Linked DNA regions of Homo sapiens. The protein of the gene in region 1 interacts with the protein of each later gene in a biochemical or structural test. Each region holds a gene or a part of one and is shown on either strand. Other genes may lie near its edges.

The links.
Region 2: the proteins of ESR1 (region 1) and SET form a complex in vitro, tested with the Homo sapiens proteins (one large-scale study listed by BioGRID).
Region 3: the proteins of ESR1 (region 1) and SAFB form a complex in vitro, tested with the Homo sapiens proteins (2 studies listed by BioGRID).
Region 4: the proteins of ESR1 (region 1) and MUC1 form a complex in vitro, tested with the Homo sapiens proteins (one study listed by BioGRID).
Region 5: the proteins of ESR1 (region 1) and ASXL1 form a complex in vitro, tested with the Homo sapiens proteins (one study listed by IntAct).
Region 6: the proteins of ESR1 (region 1) and NELFB form a complex in vitro, tested with the Homo sapiens proteins (one study listed by BioGRID).
Region 7: the proteins of ESR1 (region 1) and MYBBP1A form a complex in vitro, tested with the Homo sapiens proteins (one large-scale study listed by BioGRID).

The regions. Positions count from the first base shown.
Region 1 is NC_000006.12:151,842,182-151,845,681, reverse strand, and holds part of ESR1 (estrogen receptor), read right to left. Parts: intron 3,086-3,500; coding exon 2,895-3,085; coding exon of another isoform or gene 2,889-2,894; intron 1-2,888.
Region 2 is NC_000009.12:128,694,559-128,696,896, reverse strand, and holds the end of SET (protein SET), read right to left. Parts: intron 2,257-2,338; coding exon 2,233-2,256; 3' UTR 501-2,232; downstream 1-500. UniProt on the Homo sapiens protein: Multitasking protein, involved in apoptosis, transcription, nucleosome assembly and histone chaperoning. Isoform 2 anti-apoptotic activity is mediated by inhibition of the GZMA-activated DNase, NME1.
Region 3 is NC_000019.10:5,640,083-5,643,582, reverse strand, and holds part of SAFB (scaffold attachment factor B1), read right to left. Parts: intron 1,990-3,500; coding exon 1,925-1,989; intron 1,844-1,924; coding exon 1,637-1,843; intron 1-1,636. UniProt on the Homo sapiens protein: Binds to scaffold/matrix attachment region (S/MAR) DNA and forms a molecular assembly point to allow the formation of a 'transcriptosomal' complex (consisting of SR proteins and RNA polymerase II) coupling transcription and RNA processing.
Region 4 is NC_000001.11:155,185,324-155,187,619, reverse strand, and holds the end of MUC1 (mucin-1 isoform 10 precursor), read left to right. Parts: intron 1-43; coding exon 44-165; intron 166-245; coding exon 246-395; intron 396-1,410; coding exon 1,411-1,485; 3' UTR 1,486-1,796; downstream 1,797-2,296. UniProt on the Homo sapiens protein: The alpha subunit has cell adhesive properties. Can act both as an adhesion and an anti-adhesion protein. May provide a protective layer on epithelial cells against bacterial and enzyme attack.
Region 5 is NC_000020.11:32,424,331-32,427,830, reverse strand, and holds part of ASXL1 (polycomb group protein ASXL1), read right to left. Parts: intron 1-3,500.
Region 6 is NC_000009.12:137,258,327-137,261,826, reverse strand, and holds part of NELFB (negative elongation factor B), read right to left. Parts: intron 1-3,500. UniProt on the Homo sapiens protein: Essential component of the NELF complex, a complex that negatively regulates the elongation of transcription by RNA polymerase II.
Region 7 is NC_000017.11:4,552,585-4,556,537, forward strand, and holds the start of MYBBP1A (myb-binding protein 1A), read right to left. Parts: upstream 2,801-3,953; 5' UTR 2,741-2,800; coding exon 2,543-2,740; intron 2,373-2,542; coding exon 2,277-2,372; intron 1,695-2,276; coding exon 1,611-1,694; intron 1,510-1,610; coding exon 1,435-1,509; intron 1,334-1,434; coding exon 1,226-1,333; intron 43-1,225; coding exon 1-42. UniProt on the Homo sapiens protein: May activate or repress transcription via interactions with sequence specific DNA-binding proteins. Repression may be mediated at least in part by histone deacetylase activity (HDAC activity).

The DNA.
Region 1 (3,500 bases):
AATTGCATTTTTATAGGCTACTGTTTCAGTAAAATTCTACTAGCTGGTCTGCGTATACAAGACGGCGATAAGAGGTTTTTGTTAGTGGTGGTGGTGTTGTTTTGTTTGTTTTTTGAGATGGAGTCTCACTCTGTCACCAGGCTGGACGGCAGTGGCATGATCTCAGCTCACTGCAACCTCTGCCTCCCAGGTTCAAGCAATTATCCTGCCTCAGCCTCCCAAGTAGCTGGGACTACAGGTGTGCACCACCACGCTCAGCTAATTTTCATATTTTTAGTAGAGATGGGGTTTCACCATGTTGGCCAGGATGGTCTCGATCTCCTGACCTTGTGATCCACTCGCCTCAGCCTCCCAAACTGCTGGGGTTACAGGCCTGAGCCACCACGCCAGCTGAGATACTTGTTTTTAACTATCAAAGAGTAAGCAGACATTTTTCAAAATGTTTGAACTTGAGATAATGCCATACCAATGAAACATCTCACACTGTATTCGTTGATTTTTAGAAATATATTTTCCTTCTGTTTTTTCTGTTCTTAATGCTTAGAGACAATACTAAATGTTATGGGAATTTATATAATTTTATCTTAAATGCTGAACAAAAATGATGTAAAAAATTTGTGAGAATATTGCCATTGTTTCTCGGAGGAAGATCATTTCCACTTTCAATCTTAATAATTTTAATTTATAACTGGTATTTTCATTTCTTACATCTCTCTATTGTTTTCCTTATCTTTCTCATACAGGTAACACTTTATCAATACTGACTTACTTTCTGATTGTATCATGAGAACAAGTACATTTACTTCCTCAAATAAATTTCCTAAATACATTTTAAATTTTGTGGTATTATGGATTATGTCTTACACTTTTTTTTTATTTCTCTCGGAACATCTAATCAGGTATAGAGTAAGTTCTCAGTAAAATGTGAATAATCAAAACTTTAGATTTAAAAATCCCCTATTCCCTTCCATAAATAAAGGTATTTAGATCAGATAAATAAACATTAAATCAGGGATCGGCCACGGGCCAGGGCTGATCTGTTACCTATTCTGATAAATAAAGTTTTATTAGCACATAATCACTTCCATGTGTTTACAGGTCACCTTACAGGCTATAATCCAGTTCGGTAGCTGCAACAGAGACTGCATGGCCCTTGTAAAGCCTAAAATATTATTATCTGGCCCTTTACAGAAAAACTTTGCCAACCACTGCTTCAAATCATTTTTACTGATGAGGAAACAGTCTCAGCTCAATCCATCCAGTTGTGCAGTTAGACCTATCTACTAACCATACCTCTGTCAGACGCTCTTTCACTGCCAAATTAAATGCTTGGTAAAAACAATGGTATTTTAGATTATATAAAATCAAATAAACAGTAAAACCACAAATTAAGAGAGTTGTCAAAACACCTCTAAGGGCTTATACTAACCTAAATCAAAATATAAATGTCATTTTTTTCTGAATTAAAATAGCATCATCTAATAAAATTAAATAGCCTGTGTGCATATATATATTTATATATGTTTAGAAAAATAATAAATATATTAACTTACATTTAGAATTTATTTCTATATATATACACACACAAAGATTACTATTGAGAATATCATTAATTGTATAAAAATACCAACAAAAAAGTCCATGTGTCTCACAGCAGAGTTCTAAAAGATGTTAAAAGCAATGTGTCGAAGAAAATGCTTTTAAAATAGACCATGTTGACCTCACATGCTACTCGATTAAGATATGAACAGCTTTTAAAAAAAAAAAAAAAGTCCCACTGGCAACGGAAGGAAAAATAAATACTATATACCATCCCCCAGCTTTCATCTCATATCAGGGCAGGAAAGAGCTATCACAGAAAGTCCATGAGAATCACTTCTTCAATCAGTGTTTATTAACTTAGCGGACTCTGGTTTTCAACAAGTTACTTAAATCTGGGTTTTTGTAGAAGGAATCACATGAAAACTCCATCAGAAATATTCTTAGTGTTTATACTAACCTTCACTTAAGCTGAAAAGGTAAAGAATAAGAAGAGAGAAAAATGCCCCACACTTAAGATAAAAAATGAATTTGGTTAGCCTAAGCTGCTGTCAGATCTCTGTTCCTATCAGATAAAGGATATTCAGCATAGGTATTTTAGGTAGTAAAAATGATTAGTGTTTCCCCAGGGTATCCTATTATAATGCAATAATAGAGACATTTCTGGAGTAGAAATAAAGTATAGCTCTCCGTATATTAGCTATAATTGGCAAACTATAGACAAGAAAACAATGGAGGCAGGCGGGAAAATGAAATGCTACAGGTAGATACTTAATAACTGTTTGATAAAGATGATATCTCCCCATTACAAGACACCAACCACTGAGTCAGCTCATAGCAAAATATCCTGTCATCCATTGAGACAAGAAAGAGATGGAAGAGAGAAAGGGGAGAACAAGCTAAACTAGAACAAAACAGAATATTTGCCTGGACAAGGCCTGAGTAGAGAGATAATTATGCATGGACAATTAACAGCATATACCAGATCATATAGGCAAAGTTGCCTACCAAACATGAATGTCCATCTGGCATTCCCCAGTCAGGGCACAGACAACATTTCTTTTTTCCTCAGAGATCCAGCTAGTGGAATTCTTCTGTAGAGTTGCTCAAGACTGATTGAGTCTTGCCAAAGGAAGGAAGCGGAATTACTCAGCCTCAGCTGCCCTGCCATGTGTCAACTCCTTCTCCTGAGATCCTGTCTCTTCTCCATGTTTCTACCAAAGATACTAGTGGACCTACTAGGGATTCATGTTTTGTACAAATGGCTGATTCTATGTCTTCCTTCCTCAGTCGCTTTGGCTCTTAGGATCTGCTCATAGGATCAAAAATAGAAGTCGTTTTCAACACACTATTACCTTGAATACTTCTCTTGAAGAAGGCCTTGCAGCCCTCACAGGACCAGACTCCATAATGGTAGCCTGAAGCATAGTCATTGCACACTGCACAGTAGCGAGTCTCCTTGGCAGATTCCATAGCCATACTTCCCTTGTCATTGGTACTGGCCAATCTTTCTCTGCCACCCTGGCGTCGATTATCTGAATTTGGCCTGGGGGGAAAAAAACAGTAAATCCATTAACATTAGAAAAGCAAAACATGCACTCTCTGGGAGATGCAGCAGATCCACTTTATCCTGACATTTTGAAATAATGAATCATAATGTAAGCTAATCTTTCATTACCTCTTGCCGTCTGTTGCAGCAAAAGGTGTTGCCTATTATATTAACCTTGAGGGGAAATTGTTTATTGCAAACTTGTTTTAAAAACATACTACCTGCACCAGAATATGTTACCTATAAAAATGACAAAATGAAATTAGCTGGTTTCTAATAGACTTAATGTTTTTGCAGGAATATACAATTATTTCAGAACCATTAGAGACCAATGCTCATCCCAACTCTAGACCACACTCAGGGTCTCTGGGAAACAGAGACAAAGCATAAAACAGCTGGGACATTTGGAACT
Region 2 (2,338 bases), on another chromosome or scaffold:
CAAGCCCCATACAATTTTTCCTGTACCTGCCTATAAAACTTAATTTCCAAATTAAGCACAGTAAGAGATTAACGGTATAGGATAATTTTGACTATTGTATACTATAACTATACATTCACACATTTAACATACAGTATAGGTGTGAATGTAGTCTCAAAGTATCTGAATTGTAGTTGACCACATGTAGCTGAAGCTGCAGATAACAGGACCCACTGTACTCAATTTTCTTCCTAGTGAAAAGTCCTTTTGAGACTTCAGAATGAAAATGCTATACTCACCCTCTCAGAAACTGTTTACTCAGAAACTGTATCCAAGTAAGATATTTGAATTTGTCCTTTACTCGGACACCGACCAGCTCAAAGCTTTCTAAACCAATGTCATACCATTAGCGCTAACCCACGCTTCCCCAGTCACTAACGATGTGAAGACAAAAAACTAGAACAATTTCTGAATCCAATAGCAAGTAACATTTCTCTATAAAACAAGGAGAATGACCCCAGTCCAAAAAAAATCTTTATGTTCCTTTATTGGAGCAAGATTCCTGATCGGTATACAGTGATGTATTTACTAAACAGAGACCTGTGCAGAAATTACATACTATCCATCTAGATAGGTTGTTACACTTTTGCCTATTGATGGAATAGTTCCATTTATCAAGTTTTATACATCAAAAAGCTTTTGAAGTTCACCAGACTGTCCATTAATTCACCTCTGAAAAAGTGGCATTTAATTTCAGCGACTATATTTTACAGCATTAAAAAGCTTATGCATTAGGGTGCTTCTCTGCACAATGGCATTGAGCAGACAGAGCTGAGTCCATTATCCCACCCAGATTCACATGGTCACATTTGAGAGCTTTATACCAGAAAGCAGGGACAGTTACTGCTCACCATCAGACTTCTTACTGAGAGCCTATCTTCTTGGCCACATTTTATATAGCCAATGAAGACATGCCAGCAACTGTCCCGTGTATAACTTGGCATTAGAGCACCAGGTCTGTTGGATGGTGGTGGCAGGCACAATTAATTTATATCCAGGTAAAAGGCCAATTTTAAAAACTGCCACTTGGAGATAAAAATCAAGGGCACAATGTACTCAGAGAGTATTGAGCTATCTGGTATCCCAAATGATGTGAATACTTTCAGAAACCAATGGCAAATTGAACCCACGTTTCCCAGCTATGGAGATATTAATACATTGATTCAAATCCCATTACTCAATCCACATAGCCCTGAGGTCATCCTGCAAAGTGCGTATCAAAAAATACGAAGTTAGGGTGACAAAGTTTGACAGTGATGTTATACAAGTCAAACTTGGAAGGTCATAGTAAGCATACCTATGCTGAGAGAAAAGCATCAAATCCTTTGTGTACACATTTAGTTTTATTGTAACAAAGCAACTTGTACACTTTTAACGTTTAAAACTGAGCATCATCTTTCCTTTCCAGTGAAACAAAAAGAAAATTTAAAAATAAACAGGAACAAAATTACAATAGAGAATGTCAATTCCAAATAAGATCCTACAGGTTCTGCTGATTCTCCCATTGAGTGGCAGGGCTCAAGTCATCATTAGGAGAGAATTTATTTTAAAAGTGTCATCTTAAACTGCAAGGATGTCTGTCAAATATCACAATTAAACATGCCAAAGGAGAAGCCATGTTGTCAAAATGCCCACTTAACCCACCCAAACATCTCAAACCCACCCTTTGCTGACCTTCTATAACCCCATTTTTTTAAGTTTTTTTTTCTTTTTTTAAACAAGAGAAAGTAGACAGATACATGTTGGTAAATGCTAACTGTCCATATTCACATAGAGACACAGTGTACTCTCTGAGCCCAATATACAGAGAAAGGAGGAAAAAAGCTAGAATTCTATGCACTACTACACAGGGGCCTAGCACCCTCCAGCTTCCAGCAGAGCGAAGGGAGCAGGTTTTTCTTTTTTCCCACAGAGCTCGGTGGTGTTGATTCCATACAGTTTTTGTTCAGACAGGAAGGGATAAAAATGAACTTCGAACAGAAAGGGGTAGAGACTCTTTTCCCATTGTATTCTGCTCAAGGTATTTCCCCCCAAATAAATTGAGAACCATGGAGTAGAGAAAAGAGACCTCAAGAACAGGGCGACTGAGCACAAGAGGGAAAAAAAAAAAAAAAAAAAAAAAAGACTGCAACTTGCTCCCAGGGACTGGAGAAAATTTAAAAAAAGGAAGGTTGGAATCCATCAGTGTTCTATTTAGTCATCTTCTCCTTCATCCTCCTGAAAGAAAAAGTGGGCAGTTAATCTTCAGGATTAATGCTGAGACTTGCTTTCATATGGACCACAATGGACCCCACGAGTG
Region 3 (3,500 bases), on another chromosome or scaffold:
TCAGGAAGGGTAAGTAACTCCTGCTGCTGTGCAAGTGTTTCTGCTACTCCTTTTTAGAAGCTGATGAATGGGACTCACCAAAAATTGCACACCCTATTTGTATCAGAATAACTCTCAGCCACTTCTCAGACTCAAATCCTCCATTCAAATATGACAATCTGCTACCTCTAAGGATACTTGGAATCAGTTCCAAGAGGAAATGCAAAAATATTCTGAAGAAATGCAGAAGCGGATTGACTGGCATACAACAAGGTTTCTGTCCACCAAGACTGCTTGAGAAGCACTCACTGCGGAAGACCTAAGGACCAGGACAAGAACAGGGCCCCCCACGAGCCAACACAGAAAGGGCCCCACAGCTTCTCATATGCATCACTTTTTCTGTCTGACAAACATTAATCATCAGGTAAATGAAATTAATATCAAATTAATGGCACCAAGACAACATCGTACATAAGTTAAGTACATGGCCTCTGGAATTAGCCTGATCTTAGTTCTTATTCTGTTATGAGCTGTGTGTCATCTGGAGATGTTTTTTAGTTCTTGCCTTCCCAATTTCCTCAACTGAAAATGGGGACAACAGCACCTCATGTTGCTATTAGAAGAATTAAAGGGCACATGCTGGGCGCGGTGGCTCACACCTGTAATCTCAGCACTTTGGGAGTCTGAGGCAGGCGGATCACCTGAGGTCAAGAGTTCAAAACCAGCCTGGCCAACATGGTGAAAACCGTCTCTACTAAAGATACAAGAAAATTAGTCGGGCTTGGTGGTGGGCGCCTATAATCCCAGCTACTCACTTGGGAGGCTGAGGGAGGAGATCACTTGAACCCAGGGGGCAGAGGTTGCAGTGAGCTGAGATCGCGCCACTGCACTCCAGCCTGGGCAACAACAGCAAAACTCTGTCTCAGAAAAAAAAAAAAAAAAAAAAAAAAAAGAAAGGAAGGGCATAATGCCAATGCCTGGTAGGTAGTATTCAGGAAATACTACCCACTATAATCTTACTATCCATTTGATATGTTTCTAACAGGAAAAAAATTTAGGTTTAAAAACAACATCCAGGTTAATACTTGAGGTTAACTCTTAAGATAGGTATCAACTGGCTGTGTTTTTTTTTTTGTTTGTTTGTTTTAAACAAGAGATAGGGTTCTGTCAGACTCTGCCACCCAGGCTGGACTTCAATTGCACAATCATAGCTTAGTACAGCCTTGAACTCCTGGGCTGCTCCTTCCACCTCAGCTTTCTGAGTTACCGGATTACATGAGTGCATCAAGGCACCCAGCTCAACAATTGCTTCTTAACAGGAAAACACCAACTTCTAACCTCTTCCTAGTTCAATGCTTTCAAGGTACCTAGGCCATAACACCACAGATCAAGTCCGGCAACAGGAAGAGTCTGAATGGTTGTCCTCAAAATGTCTCATACTGTATGCCGCAAATGGATAGCAAGTACATATGAAATGTTATAAGACATCACCTTTCAACAAAACAAATTGGTTCAGAATCATCTGAACCAACTGACCCTTATTCTACTGAACTGGCATTACAGAACAACTTACTTCCCAATATGAAACTGATCACCTATTTTAATTGTGGAACTGATACATTCAGGGCACATTCTAGAGACATTGCCGGTTACCTACAGCATGTTCCTGAAGCTGCTCCGGAAGCTCTTTCATTTCCCCCTCGACTAGCTCTCTACTATCCGACAGGGACTCCTGGAGGTTATCAGCATCATCGTCTTCGACACAATCTGCAACGCTTCCATTATCAATTTCTGCTTCATCCAACACACTGATATCCATGATGTCGATGTCCTGCAAGTTCTCCAGACTGGTCTCAACATCCTCCTGTGACACAACCAGACCGAACCATCATGTGACCGCCACTGGTCCATCCACCACGCTACTCACTCGCAAGGCTGCACATACCTGTCCATCCCCAGAGTTTTCCTCCAGCCCGTTATCTTCCACACCCTCTTCTTCTGGTTTGCGCCCTGAAGACAGAATCATTTACAGCATGAGATCAAATGATACGCACTTTACAGAAGCAACAATGCCCTGAGCACTACACAAGTGGTCACTTTATAAACATCTGAGACACCTCACTACTTAGGAACACTTCCTAATCCAGGAATGAGGCCATTCCGCACAAGACAGCCCTGCCCCACCCCCAAGCAGAAGAGGTTCTGTTCTTGTCTGAGCTGTGGAAGTAGAAGTGCAGAAAACAGGTTCTTAGTAAAGTTGAACAGGATCAGACCTGTCCTCAGCTCTGCCCTTCTTCCTATCCCAAGTGTCCTTGTTTGAGGGAAAAATTATTTGTTGCAAATGTGCTGCCTTTTAGTTAAGGAACATGTTTTCCCACAGAAACTGCGCATGCCCGAGTATGCACATTTTTAATGCTTAAAAAGAAAAAAGAAGGGCCGGATGCGATGGCTTACGCCTGTAATCCCAGCACTTTGGGAGGCCTAGGCGGGCGGATCACCTGAGGTCAGGAGTTCGAGACCAGCCTGGAAAACATGGTGAAACCCCGTCTCTACTAAAAATACAGGACAATCACTTGAACCCAGGAGGCGGAGGTTGCACTGAGCCGAGACTGCGCCACTGCACTCCAGCCTGGGCAACAAGAGCGAAACTCGGTTAAAAAAAAAAAAAAAAGAAAAACAAAAAACCCACATACTATCAAGATACTCCAGAGGGGCTGGGCACGGTGGCTCATGCCTGTTAAGTCCAGCACATTAGGAGGCCGAGACAGGTGGATCACTTGAGGTCAGGAGTTTGACACCAGCCTGGCCAACCTGACGAAACCCTGTCTCAACTAAAAATACAAAAAACTAGCTGGTTGTGGTGGCGGTTGCCAGTAATCTCAGCTACTCAGGAGGCGGAGGCAGGAAAATCGCTTGAACTCTGGAGGTTTAGGTTGCAGTGAGCTGAGATCGTGCCGCTGCACTCCAGCCTGGATGACAGAGCAAGACTCTGTCTCAAAAACAAAACAAAACAAAACAAAAATTGCAGAGGAAGGTTTTTTTTTAACTTATACATTTCCATCAACAGCGAATTAAAAAGTGCCAATCTCGTGCACTTGTAGTCCCAGCCACTCGGGAGGCTGAGGCAGGAGAATCGCTTGAATCCGGGAGGCAGAGGTTGCAGTTAGCCGAGATCACACCACTGCACTCCAGTCTGGCAACAGAGCGAGACTCCATCTCCAGAAAAAAAAAAAAAAAAAAAAAAAGCCAATCTTTCTTGAATCTCTGTTAAAAATTTGCTATTTTTCTTTATCTTTGCCAATATGCTAGGTAAGAAAAGGAATACTGTTTTAACACGAATTTATCTCCTGACTACTCAAATTGCTTTGAATCATTTGCTTTTTGTTGTTGATCACCTGTACTTTTCTAAAAATTTCTGATTTACACCCCACTATTTAAAAACTTCGGCTCCAGCCAGGCGCGGTGGCTCACGCCTGTAATCCCAGCACTTGGGAGGCCGAGGCAGGCGGATCACCTGAGGT
Region 4 (2,296 bases), on another chromosome or scaffold:
GCCTCCTCTGGGAGACTGCCCTGACCACTGCTTTTCCTTTTAGTGAGTGATGTGCCATTTCCTTTCTCTGCCCAGTCTGGGGCTGGGGTGCCAGGCTGGGGCATCGCGCTGCTGGTGCTGGTCTGTGTTCTGGTTGCGCTGGCCATTGTCTATCTCATTGCCTTGGTGAGTGCAGTCCCTGGCCCTGATCAGAGCCCCCCGGTAGAAGGCACTCCATGGCCTGCCATAACCTCCTATCTCCCCAGGCTGTCTGTCAGTGCCGCCGAAAGAACTACGGGCAGCTGGACATCTTTCCAGCCCGGGATACCTACCATCCTATGAGCGAGTACCCCACCTACCACACCCATGGGCGCTATGTGCCCCCTAGCAGTACCGATCGTAGCCCCTATGAGAAGGTGAGATTGGGCCCCACAGGCCAGGGGAAGCAGAGGGTTTGGCTGGGCAAGGATTCTGAAGGGGGTACTTGGAAAACCCAAAGAGCTTGGAAGAGGTGAGAAGTGGCGTGAAGTGAGCAGGGGAGGGCCTGGCAAGGATGAGGGGCAGAGGTCAGAGGAGTTTTGGGGGACAGGCCTGGGAGGAGACTATGGAAGAAAGGGGCCCTCAAGAGGGAGTGGCCCCACTGCCAGAATTCCTAAAAGATCATTGGCCGTCCACATTCATGCTGGCTGGCGCTGGCTGAACTGGTGCCACCGTGGCAGTTTTGTTTTGTTTTGCTTTTTTGCACCCAGAGGCAAAATGGGTGGAGCACTATGCCCAGGGGAGCCCTTCCCGAGGAGTCCCAGGGGTGAGCCTCTGTGCCCCTAATCATCTCCTAGGAATGGAGGGTAGACCGAGAAAGGCTGGCATAGGGGGAGGTTTCCCAGGTAGAAGAAGAAGTGTCAGCAGACCAGGTGAGCGTGGGTGCCAGTGGGGTTCTTGGGAGCTTCAAGGAAGCAAGGAACGCTCCCTCCTTCCTCTCCTGGTCTTTCTCTATGGGACCTAGTAAATAATTACTGCAGCCACCTGAGGCTGGAAAACCACTCCAGGTGGGGGAGGAGAGAGTTTAGTTTTCTTGCTCCTATTTTCCTCCTCCTGGAGACCTCCCTCTCTCGGCTTTACAAAGACACAGATACACCCCGCCCCCCAAAACACACACACACACACACACACACCTCCTTAGGCTGGAACAGCAGAGAATGGAGGGACAAGGGGGCTGATTAGAGCCAAGAAGAGGGAGTGAAGGAGAGCAGAGGGAGGAGGGCAGCCCTGTTTACAGTCACCTGGCTGGTGGGGTGGCAGGTGCTCTCTCTGAATTAACCCTTTGAGAGCTGGCCAGGACTCTGGACTGATTACCCCAGCCTGGGGTGGCATCCAGGGGCTCTAGGAGGTACCTTTTGCTCCTCACCCTGGATCTCTTTTCCTTCCACCCAGGTTTCTGCAGGTAATGGTGGCAGCAGCCTCTCTTACACAAACCCAGCAGTGGCAGCCACTTCTGCCAACTTGTAGGGGCACGTCGCCCGCTGAGCTGAGTGGCCAGCCAGTGCCATTCCACTCCACTCAGGTTCTTCAGGGCCAGAGCCCCTGCACCCTGTTTGGGCTGGTGAGCTGGGAGTTCAGGTGGGCTGCTCACAGCCTCCTTCAGAGGCCCCACCAATTTCTCGGACACTTCTCAGTGTGTGGAAGCTCATGTGGGCCCCTGAGGGCTCATGCCTGGGAAGTGTTGTGGTGGGGGCTCCCAGGAGGACTGGCCCAGAGAGCCCTGAGATAGCGGGGATCCTGAACTGGACTGAATAAAACGTGGTCTCCCACTGCGCCAACTTCTGATCTTTCATCTGTGACCCGTGGGCAGCAGGGCGGTCAGAATGTGTGTGAGGGGGCTGGGGGAGGAGACAGGGAGGCCAGGAGGCAGTAAGGAGCGAGTTTGTTTGAGAAGCAGGAGATGTGAGGAGGAGGTGACATTGGGGAGTAGGGGTGGCCTGAGGAGCCACCTCTGGCTAACCCTGGCAGCACAAGAGGAAGGAGGAAACGAAACCCAGGCGGGCTTTGGAGGGCTAGCGTGACTGGGCTCCGTGACTGAGCTCTGTGTGCCAGTGGCTCTCCCCTCTCCTCGCCTGGCCCACGCCCTCCTTGCCCCCTGGCATGGTGCCCCCCAGGTGGCTCTATTCTTAGCTGTCCGGGTGTGAAGTAAATCCTTGGGCAGTGATAACAGCCCAGAGTCAACAGGGTTGAGATAAGCAGAGGCTGGGTCAGATCCGGGCGCTGGCACCAGGCCCAGCCCCCTCCCTGACCCCGGCTGCCCCACCAGCCTGCTGCCCCT
Region 5 (3,500 bases), on another chromosome or scaffold:
CTCAAGGAGCTCAAATAAGTAGGGGGGTCAATTAAACTGATTACAATACAAAGTACAGTACATAGGTGAACATGGAGAGCCGTGGCAGCCCAGAAGAGGGGCACCTAACTTCAATGAGTTGAGCGAAAGACGGCATGGAGGTGAATAACGATCAGGGAAGTAACACATCCAAAAGGATGTGTTGCTTAAGCTGGGTTTTAAAATAAATTAGCAACTAGACAGACAGGTTGGCAGTAGAGAGATTGTAGGAAGTTTCTAGATAGTGGGATGAGCAAATGTGAAAGAATATTCCAAACTCAGGGAAACTAGGGCTGTGGGGAACTCAATATGCAGGAAGCTAGAGAGGGCACGAGGGCAGATGGTAAGACCCATGTGGAGGGATCAAGAATTTGATTGTTCCGGAGTCACTGAAGAATATTAACTACAGGAATGATTTGAGTTTTCGGAATTTCATCTGGCAACCGCGGGAAGCCTAGAGGCAGGAAGAAGAGGTAGACACTATGAAAGATGTCCAACAAAAAATGCCAAAGATCTAAACCAAAGATTGTGGCTACAGGGCTAGAGTGTAGAGGAGAACTCCATCCCAAATTTCACCTCCTAAGAAAAGCTTCTTCCAATAGACTCACGACATGTAGACTCAGAATTAAACTCTACCCATTCCCAAGAAGAACTTGGGAGTTATCTCACACCTCAAAACTACAAAGAGTGTGGATGAGAATACTGGCAGTTGGAGACAAGAAGAAGATAAGTTGGGGCAGAGGAGGAGAATGTCTTCTTTGAATAAAAGTATGTGAAAAAGAGTTGATAAAGTCATGATTCTGCTAAAAAGGCACCATAAATTTAAAACAGGTGCCCACAACAATCTAACTCATCAATTTCATGAGTCTCTTGATCCACTACATTGAAGTTTCATCAATTTATTTTCATTAGTTTTAGCCAAAATCATGTATCTTAAATTAATAAAAAAGAGGCCAGGTGCAGTGGCTCACTCACACCTGTAATCCCAGCACTTTGGGAGGCTGAGGCAGGTGGATCACGAGGTCAGGAGATTGAGACCATCCTGGCCAACACGGTGAAACCCTGTTTCTACTAAAATACAAAAAATTAGCCAGGTGTGGTGGCACGCGCCTGTAGTACCAGCTACTCGGGAGGCTAAGGCAGGGGAATCACTTGAACCCAGGAGGTGGAGGATGCAGTGAGCTGAGATTACGCCACTGCACTCCAGCCTGGCGACAGAGCAAGACTCCATCTCAAAAAAAAAAAAAAAAAAAAAAAAGAAAGAAAAAAAAGAAAACAGTTTTCTACATCTTTACCTCTTTTCCTTACTGGCCATACATGGTCTTCAGAATCAAAAGCTAAATAATATTTTTAGTTATGCTTATTGACTGCCATGTTCTTGGTATAATAAAACAAATTTAATCTCTCTTCTCTCATGGGCAAACTAAGATAAAATACTCCTTAATGAATTAAGAAAGTCTATTACACTGGCAAAGTTACCCCAAATCTCCAGTTCTGACAAGAGTATGAGAAAATCATACATACACCCTTGATGAAAGTAAAAATGGCATAAAAAGGTTCACATGCTGCCAACGGAAAACTATTAGCCAAAACCTAAAAAATATATATGTATCTTTTATCCCAATACGAGATTTACACAGGACATGAAAAATATTGATTCTTACAAAGGAGAAAACAAATCAATTAAACTACATTAAAATTAAGACCTCCTATTCATCAAAAAACATTATTACCTACAGAGCTGAAAAAGATATCTGCAACTTACATAACCAATAAAGAACTTGTATTTAGACTACATTTATAAATCAGGCCGGGCATGGTGGCTTGCACCTGTAATCCCAGTACTTTGGGAGGCCAAGGCGGATGGATCACTTGAGGTCAGGGGTTCAAGACAAGCCTGGTCAACATGGTGAAACCCTGTCTCTACTAAAAATACAAAAATTAGCTGGGCGTGGTGGCGCACACCTGCAGTCCCAGCTACTTGGGAGGCTGAGGCAGGAGAATCACTTGAACGAAGGAGGCAGAGGTTAGTGAGCCAAGATTGTGCCACTGTACTCCAGCCTGGGTGACAGAGCCAGACTCCTTCTTGGGGGCGGGGAGAGAGGGGGAACAAATATAAATCAATGGGCAAAAGGCAACTCAGAAGAAAAATAAAAGATGTGAATTAGGCACTGCACAAGAGGATACTGAAGTAGCCAAAACATATAAAAGGGTATTTAATCTCACTAACAATAAGGAAAATGCAAAATAATGCAAATTAAAACCGCAATGAGATACTACCACATCCATCAGAATGGCTACAATTAAAGTTTGACAATATCAAGTAGTGTTAATTAGGAGTAGAACAAGTACACTGAAAACAGATCCAAGCATTTGAGAATACAATTTGGCCTTATCTGGTACAGTTGAAGATACAAACATCCTCTGACCCAGCAACGTCCCTCCTAGGCTTGGATTCCTTAGAGAAGTACATGCACATCTACACAAATCACAACCCACATGTTCATGATGCAGCATTTGAAATCTGGATTATAAACAATCAAAGTGGCTGCCAAAGGCAGAATCAAATTGTAGTACATTCAATAAATGGATGATTATACAGCAACAAAAAATGAATGAACTATAGCTACTAACGACATAGATGAATATTAAAAACAAAATAGTGAATGAAAGCCAGATACAAAATAATGCATAGTTGATGATTCCGTTTGTGAAAAGTTCAAAATAAGCTCAACTAAACTACAGCATTAGGAATGCAAAGACGGGTAGGTAATCTAAAGGAAAGCAAGAAAATAACTTTCATAAAGTCAAGACAGAAGTTACCTTCAGCTGGAAGAATGGGGCTGTGACTGGGAAGGGGCAGTGGGGGGTAGGGGAGGTGCGCCTGGCTGCTGGCCATATTTGATGTCGTGATCTAAGTGGCAGTTACAGGGTGTTCACTTTATAATAATTCCTTAAGCTGAACATTTGTGTCCTATGCATTCACTGTATTACATTCCCACAATTATAAAAGTTTAAAAACAAAAAATTTTAAGGTATTTCCTTCAAGGAACACTACCACAGATAGCCATTTAAAAGAAAGCTGTACAGCATTTAATGACAAGAGAAACGATGATACACAAGCTTAATTAGGCAATTAAATTCATACAGTATGATTCTATCATCTTTTTTAAAAAATGAAAATTTGAATGTGTTTGCATAGAAAAATGCAAGAGAAATTCTTACTAAGCTGTTGGCCACCACCATCTCTAGGTGGCAGTTTTTTTGTTTGTTTTTTGAGACAAGAGTCTCGCTCTGTCACCCAGGATGGAGTGCAGCGGCATGATCTCGGCTCACTGCAACCTCCTCCTCCTGGGTTCAAGCGATTTTCCTGCCTCAGCCTCCCGAGCAGCTGGGATTACAGGTGGCTGCCACCACGCCCAGCTAATTTTTGTAGTTTTAGTAGATATGGGGTTTCACCATGTTGGCCAGGATGGTCTTGA
Region 6 (3,500 bases), on another chromosome or scaffold:
CAGTCTCCGCGTCTTGGTGGTAATGGTCCCCCGGGCCCAGCTGTCTTTTCATTTCTTTGCCTTGTGTCTTTACTTCTACAATCTCTCATCTCCGCACACGGGGAGAAAAACCCATCAACCCTGTGGGGCTGGTCCCTACACCCAATCAATTTTTTTTTTTTTTTTTTTTGAGACGGAGTCTTGCGCTGTCACCCAGGCTGGAGTGCAATGGCAAGATCTTGGTTCACTGCAACCTCCACCTCCCGGATTCAAGCTATTCTCCTGTCTCAGCTTCCCAAGTAGTTGGGATTACAGGCGCCGGCTGCCATGACTGGCTAATTTTTTGTATTGTAGTAGAGACGGGGTTTCACCATGTTGCCCGGGCTGGTCTTGAACTTCTGAGCTCAGGTGATCCACCCACCTCGGCCTCCCAAAGTGCTAGGATTGCAGGCATGAGCCACACACCTGACCCAGTTTTTTTTTTTTTTTACTTTTTTTTTTTTTTTTTGAAACCGAGTCGTGCTCTGTTACCCAGGCTGGAGTGCAGTGGCGTGATCTCAGCTCACTGCAAGCTCCACCTCCCAGGTTCACACCATTCTCCTGCCTCGGCCTCCCGAGCAGCTGGGACTACAGGCACCCACCACCACGCCCAGCTAATTTTTTGTATTTTTAGTAGATGCGGTTTCACCATGTTAGCCAGGATGGTCTCGATCTCCTGACCTCATGATCCACCCGCCTCGGCCTCCCAAAGTGCTGGGATTACAGGCGTGAGTCACTGCGCCCAGCTTTTTTTTTTGCGACTGAGTCTCACTCTGTCGCCTAGTACAGTGGCGCAATCTTGGCTAACTGCAACCTCCACCTCCCGGGTTCAAGTGATTCTCCTGCCTCAGCCTCCTGAGTAGCTGGGACTACAGGCGCACACCACCAGGTCTGGTTAATTTTTGTATTTTTAGTAGAGATGGGTTTTTACCATGTTGGTCAGGCTGGTCTCGAACTCCTGACCTCGTGATCCACCCACCTCTGCCTCCCAAAGTGCTGGGATTACAGGCGTGAGCCACCGCACCCGGCCTAATTTAGCTTTTTAAAAGAGAATCGGGCTGGGCACGGTGGCTCACACCTGTAATTGCAGCAAATTGGGAGCCCAAGGTGGGTGGACTACCTGAGGCCAGGAGTTCGAGAACAGCCTGGCCAACATGGTGAAACCCCATCTCTACTAAAAATACAAAAATTAGTCGGGCGTGGTGGTGGGTGCCTGTAATCCCAGCTACTCGGGAGGTTGAGGCAGGAGAATCACTTGAACCTGGGAGACTGAGGTTGCAGTGAGCTGAGATCACACCACTGCACTCCAGCCTGGGCAACAGAAGGACACTACGTCTCAAAAAAAAAAAAATAAAACAAACTAAAATAAAATAAAACAAAATATAAAATTAAAATAAAATAAATAAAAAAAATTTTAAAAAATAAATTTTAAAAATTAAAAAAAATAATAAAATAAAATAGCCGGTCTCAGTGGCTCACGCCCGTAATCCCAGCACTTTGGGAGGCCGAGGCGGGTGGATCATGAGGTCAGGAGATCGAGACCATCCTGGCTAACATGGTGAAACCCCATCTCTACTAAAAATACAAAAAACATAGCTGGGCGTGGTGGTGGGCGCCTGTAGTCCCAGCCACTCGGGAGGCTGAGGCAGGAGAACGGAGTGAACCCGGGAGGCGGAGCTTGCAGTGAGCCGAGATTGCACCACTGCACTCCAGCCTGGGCAACAGAGCAAGATTCTGTCTCAAAAATAAAATAAAATAAAATAAATAAAAATAAAAATAGGCCAGGCACGGTGGCTCACGCCCATAATCCCAACACTTTGGGAGGCTGAGGCAGGTGGATCACAAGGTCAGGAGATTGAGACCATCCTGGCTAACACTGTGAAACCCCGTCTCTACTAAAAAAAAAAATACAAAAAATTAGCCGGGCATGGTGGCAGGCGCCTGTAGTCCCAGCTACTTGGGAGGCTGAGGCAGGAGAATGGAGTGAACCCGGGAGGCGGAGCTTGCAGTGAGCCAAGATCGTGCCACTGCACTCCAGCCTGGGTGACAGAGCAAGACTCTGTCTCCAAAAAAATAAATAAATAAATAATAAAAAAATAAAAAATAAATTTTAAAAAGTAGTAAAATAAAACAAGATAAAAATATATAAAATAAAATAAAATAAAAATAAAAGAGAATCAACCTAGGACTAAGCCGACCAAGCCGACTGATTTCCCTTACAGACAGAAATCAGTATAGGCAGCACCAAGTCACCAGAAGAGACAGGCGATAGGAGAAAGGCCTGGGAAATGCAGGGCACCCCACAGTTAGCAGAGGGGTCCAAGGGCTCTGTCTGACAGCAATGGAACAAGAAAAAGGCCCATGGAGGACCTAACTGGGAATAAACAAACAGGGAAGGGAGGACAGAGGTGGCACTGCCACCCCCAACAAGCCTGCTGCTGCCCACGCACATGGTCAGGAACCACGGCCCGAAGGGAACCCAGAGCCACACTAACTGCTCAGCGTTTGAAGTGCAGTAGTTCAGATGGGCTCTAAGCATGAAAGACTCACCAGGTTTCAAATCTTAGTGATCCTCCCGCAAAAAGCATTATAGCTCAATATTTTTTTTTTCCTTTTGAGACAGGATCTCTCACTCTGTCGCCCAGGTTGGAGTGCAGTGGCTCAATCATACCTCACTGCAGCCTCAATATCCGAGGCCTAAGCAATCCTCCTGCTTCAGCCTCCTGAGTAGTTGAGACAACAGGTACGCACCACCATGCTTAGCTTAATTTTTTTTTCTTGTAGAGACAAGGTCTCCCTTTGGTCTTTAACTACTAAGCTCAAGCGATCCTCCCACCTCCGCCTCCCAAAGTACTAGGAGTACAGGCGTGAGCCACCGTACCCAGCCCAATCTTTCACATGAATTACATGCTGAAAGATAATATTTTGGATATACTGGACCAAAGAAAACATTAATGAAGTTGATCTCATTTTTTTTTCTTAATGTGGATGCTGAAAAATCTTAACTTATAGTTCGCTTTTTCCACTGAACAGTGCTAGTTTAAAGTTGGTTAGGGCCGGGCGCAGTGGCTCACACTTGTAATCCCAGCACTTTGGGAGGCCAAGGTGGGCGGATTACCTGAGGTCAGGAGTTCAAGACCAGCCTGGTCAACATGGTGAAACCCTGTCTGTACTAAACAAAAAAATAAAAAAATTAGCCAGGCATGGTGGGGCGCGCCTGTAGTCTCAGCTACTCGAGAGGCCGAGGCAGGAGAATTGCTTGAACTCAGGAGGCAGAGGTTACAGTGAGCCGAGATTGAGGCCCTGCACTCCAGTCTGGGTGACAGAGCAAGACTCTGTCTCAAAAAAAAAAAAAAAAATTGGCTAATTAAAAAATCTCACAACCAGTTGTGGTCGCTCACACCTATAATCCCAGCACTTCAGGAGGCTGAGGTGTGCAGACAGATTACTTGAGCCCAGGAGTTCGAGACCAGCCTGGGCAA
Region 7 (3,953 bases), on another chromosome or scaffold:
GAGGACCTCCGGCAGGATCTCCTGCAATGTGGCCTTCGAGACCTAAGGATGGAGGGAGAAGAAATCGTGACTTCCTCTGCGGGGTGAGCCTGGTGGATCCTGTTCTACCTGCTCCTGACACGGGGCCACCTGGTGAGGTATCAGAGTCATCAGAGGCCAGTTGCTAACAAAACTCAAATTCCCAGGCAGCGGGGTTTTTGACAAGCATCCCACTGACGCTAACTGGCCCCTGGAGGTACCTGCCCCCCACCCCTTATTTTTTTTTTTTAAGACAGAGTCTCACTTTGCCACCCAGGCTGAGTATAGTGGTGTGATCTTGGCTCACTGCAACCTCCGCCTCCCAGGTTGAAGCAATTCTCCTGCCTCAGGTGGGATTAAAGGTGTGCGCCATCACACCCAGCTAATTTTTGTATTTTTAGTAGAGATGGGGTTTCACCATGTTGGCCAGGCTGGTCTTGAACTCCTGACCTCAAGTGATCTGCCCACCTCGGCCTCCCAAAGTTCTGGGATTACAGGCGTGAGCCACCATGCCCGGTCAAAGCTACCCTTTTAATTATTCCTTTTTTTGGTATTTCAGAGTACTAGCTCATTTCATACACGAGGAGCCCTAGGTGGAGAGCTGGGATTCGAATTCAGGTCCTTCTGGCTCTGAGGTCAAGACTGCACAGTAAGCCCTGGCCTGGAGACCTGCTACCCCTGCCTTTCTCTTCGGTGACAAAAGGGCCTAGGGTGCTACCTTCCCAAGTAGGGCAGTGGAGGCCCACAAGGGGCCAGCCTTGACCAGGATAACAATGGCAAACGTTTTATATACTTGCCACGTGCCAGGCACAGTTCCAGAGCTGCACTGCCCAATACGGTAGCCACAGCCACACAGGGCTGCTGAGCGCCTGAAAGGTGGCTAATCTGAACAGGGGTGTGCCTAAGTGTAACATACACACTGGATTTTGGAGACACCTGACAAAAAGAGTGTAAGATATCTCAACACTTTTTTATACCAATGCACACTGAAATAATATTTTAGATATACCAGATAAAGTCAAATGTCACTAAATGTTACTAAATGACACCTGTTTCTTTTTACCTTTTCAACAAAGTCACTGAAACGCTTCAAATTATACATCTTTGTATTTCTATGGAACAGTGCTGTTCCAGATTCTCATCCGAGCCCCCTTGATGTCTCTGTAACAAAGTGTTGCCTGGGCCCGCACAGCTGGGGAGCTCATACCTCGGAGAGGATGTCCACCAGGGCCTTCCGGGGCTGCTCCTGCAAGTGGTTTTGGTACTGGGCCAGGGCCTGCAGCAGCTTCACCGACTTCATCAGTGCCTCCTGGTCCTGGTCCCCACAGAGGGACAGAGGGTATGAGCAGGGCACACGACTGTCCCCCACCCATCCCAAGCCAGCCTACATTCCCCCAGTCCCTCCAAAGCTCTTACCTTCACCAGCCGACCTGACTGAAAGAGGGCGAGCACTCCAAACAGGTTTGCAAAGAGAGCAGGTCTCAGCATTGCCTAGAAAAGGATTCCAGGCACAGGCATGAGGGGCCCTGGAACTCCCCATTCCCCAAGCCTCCCACCCCTGGGGCTGCTGACCTCCCTGGCCCCACTCTCACCTTCTTCACCTGATGCAGGTCATATTTTTCTTGTATCTGCTGCAGGATGCTGCACAAGGGGAGGTCTTCAAAAGACTGTAACAGCTGCCAGGAGTTGTGTGGCAGGAGGAAGAGGGTTCAGGAGAGTGGCCCAACTACGTCTTCACAAACCTTAACCTCCCTTCCCCCTTCAACTTCTCCCAAGAAGCCTCAGGTCCCTAGTCCCACCTTCTATGTACCTTCTATGGCCCCTAGATTACTAGTCTGAAATGCTCAGCCACTGGGTCTTCTCTCCGCACGTGGTCTGAGCTCCCCTCAGGCTGATCCTGCAGGCCTGGGTCTTTATTGCTCTGCCCCTTGTCAAGGCGCCTCAGAGAGTGGTCTACTCCAATCAGCTGAATGCCTCTGCAGGCCTAAGGGAGCCCACCCAGCGCTCACTGCTCCCAGAAAGTGTACCTAAGAGGCCGGGCAACCCAAGCACCAAATAGAAAACCTGGCCAGGCCTTGCTCACACCTTCTCCACTTTCATGAAGAGGCCTCCCTCAGGTTGGCCTCCAGTCTGCTCTGCCACTCCCGACCTCTCTCTCGGGCTGCCCCTCCGCCACAGCTGAGACACCACACCCGCCCTCCTCATACCCCACCATTTTGACCTGGATGGCTGGGACCCTGCCAGGAGCACCACCTCACCTGTGCCAGGGCCAAACTGTAGCAGGGCCGGGCTGTTTCTCGCCCGACCCCGAGTCCCGTGATTAGACGCTTCAGGGCATATTTCATCTCGGACCCCTGCGGAACCAAGCACACCCTCGTGTTCAATGGTGACAACAAGGTGCACGCCCCCGCGCACCCTGGCATCCAGGTTCGCGACCACGTGCCCCCAGTCTCAACTCCCTGGGCCCGCCGCCGCTTCCTTGCCGGGATATGCGCAGCCTCTGCCCCAGACCCCGCCACTCCACCTTCGGCCTGCCACGCAGATACTCCAGCAGCTTCTCCGTGGCCGCAAGTCGCGTCTCCTGCTCAGGCTTCGCAATGTCCCAGAAGAAGTCCAAGAACTCGCGACTGTGCTTCAATAGGCCATAGCGGTCGGCAGGCCGGGCGCCACTCTGCGTCGCTTCTCCAGGCGACATCGGCTGGGCGGGATCCCGGCTCTCCATCTCCGCCACACTCACCGAAACACGAAACACGTGTGCTCCGGCCCCAGCCGCTTCCAGGTCAGGGCACGGCGCATGCGCACCGGTTTGTGTCGGCTCGGAGGCGGAAGAACCCGGAGGGGCGGGGGAACCAAGAGAGACCGGCCCAGAGTTAAAAGAGCGGCATTTCCGCCGTAGCTCTGAGCGGAAGTCCCTCGCCTAGCGGCGTCCCATCTTTCCCAGCCTTCTGCTCACACCCGCTCCGCCCTGGCGGCTGTGGCATCTGCCCCTTTGGAGCCCCAGGGGGGCATTTCTAAGGGCCCATCTCGGAAACAAACCTAGGTGTAGCACTTCGATCCGACTCGTCCCAGAGCGGCCCCTGCGCTCCGAACATTGAGCCATTCAACAATTACTGGGCTCCTGCTGGCGTGCCGTGCTAGGCGGTTGGAACAAAGCCTCTGCTCTCGTGGAGGAACACGGAGCCAAATGCATTTAAAAAGATCATAATTATGAAGAGAATTAGGAATGCAAGGGTCAGGAGGAGGCTTTTAAGTGCTGGAACGTGAATACATCACCCGTTAAAAACACGGCTAATTACTATTCAATAGGGTCTCCAATAATGATTTGAGGGGTTGGTCAGGGAAGGCCTCTGTGAGGAAGTGGCATTTGGGATGAGAGCTGAGTGACAAGAAGGGCCCCCCTCCCCCGTACTCCTGCAAGGATCTAAGGGGACGAAATCCCAAGCCTTGCAACTACAGAGACCCAGGGCTGGAGGGGCTGAGGCTGGCGAGAAGCAAGGCTGCATGGGGCCCCGGGCTGGGATTTCATTCTGAGGGTGATGGGAAGTCACTGGTGAGTTTAATGCAGGGGCAAGCCTGGATCCGATTTACATTTTAACAAGATGATGCTGGCTGCTGTGTGGGGGATGGACTGTAGGTCTGCGCAGGTGGAAGCACGGGAAGACCATTTAGAGATAGTGGTGGACTGGACCCAGGGAAAATGAGAACAGGTCAGATTTGGGCTGATGTGGAGCAGGTGGGGTGGGTGATGGAGTTAGATGTCGGGGGAGAGGAAATGAGGGGGATGCCAGGTTTGAGACTGAAATAACTGGGTACATTGTGGTGCCATTACGGAGAAGAATTTTCTTGGGAGTGGGAGGTAAAGGTGGTGGGATCAAACGGTCTATTAAATCAGAGAAGCCTTTTACAATGGCAGGGGAGGGGAACTGCTACTGGTC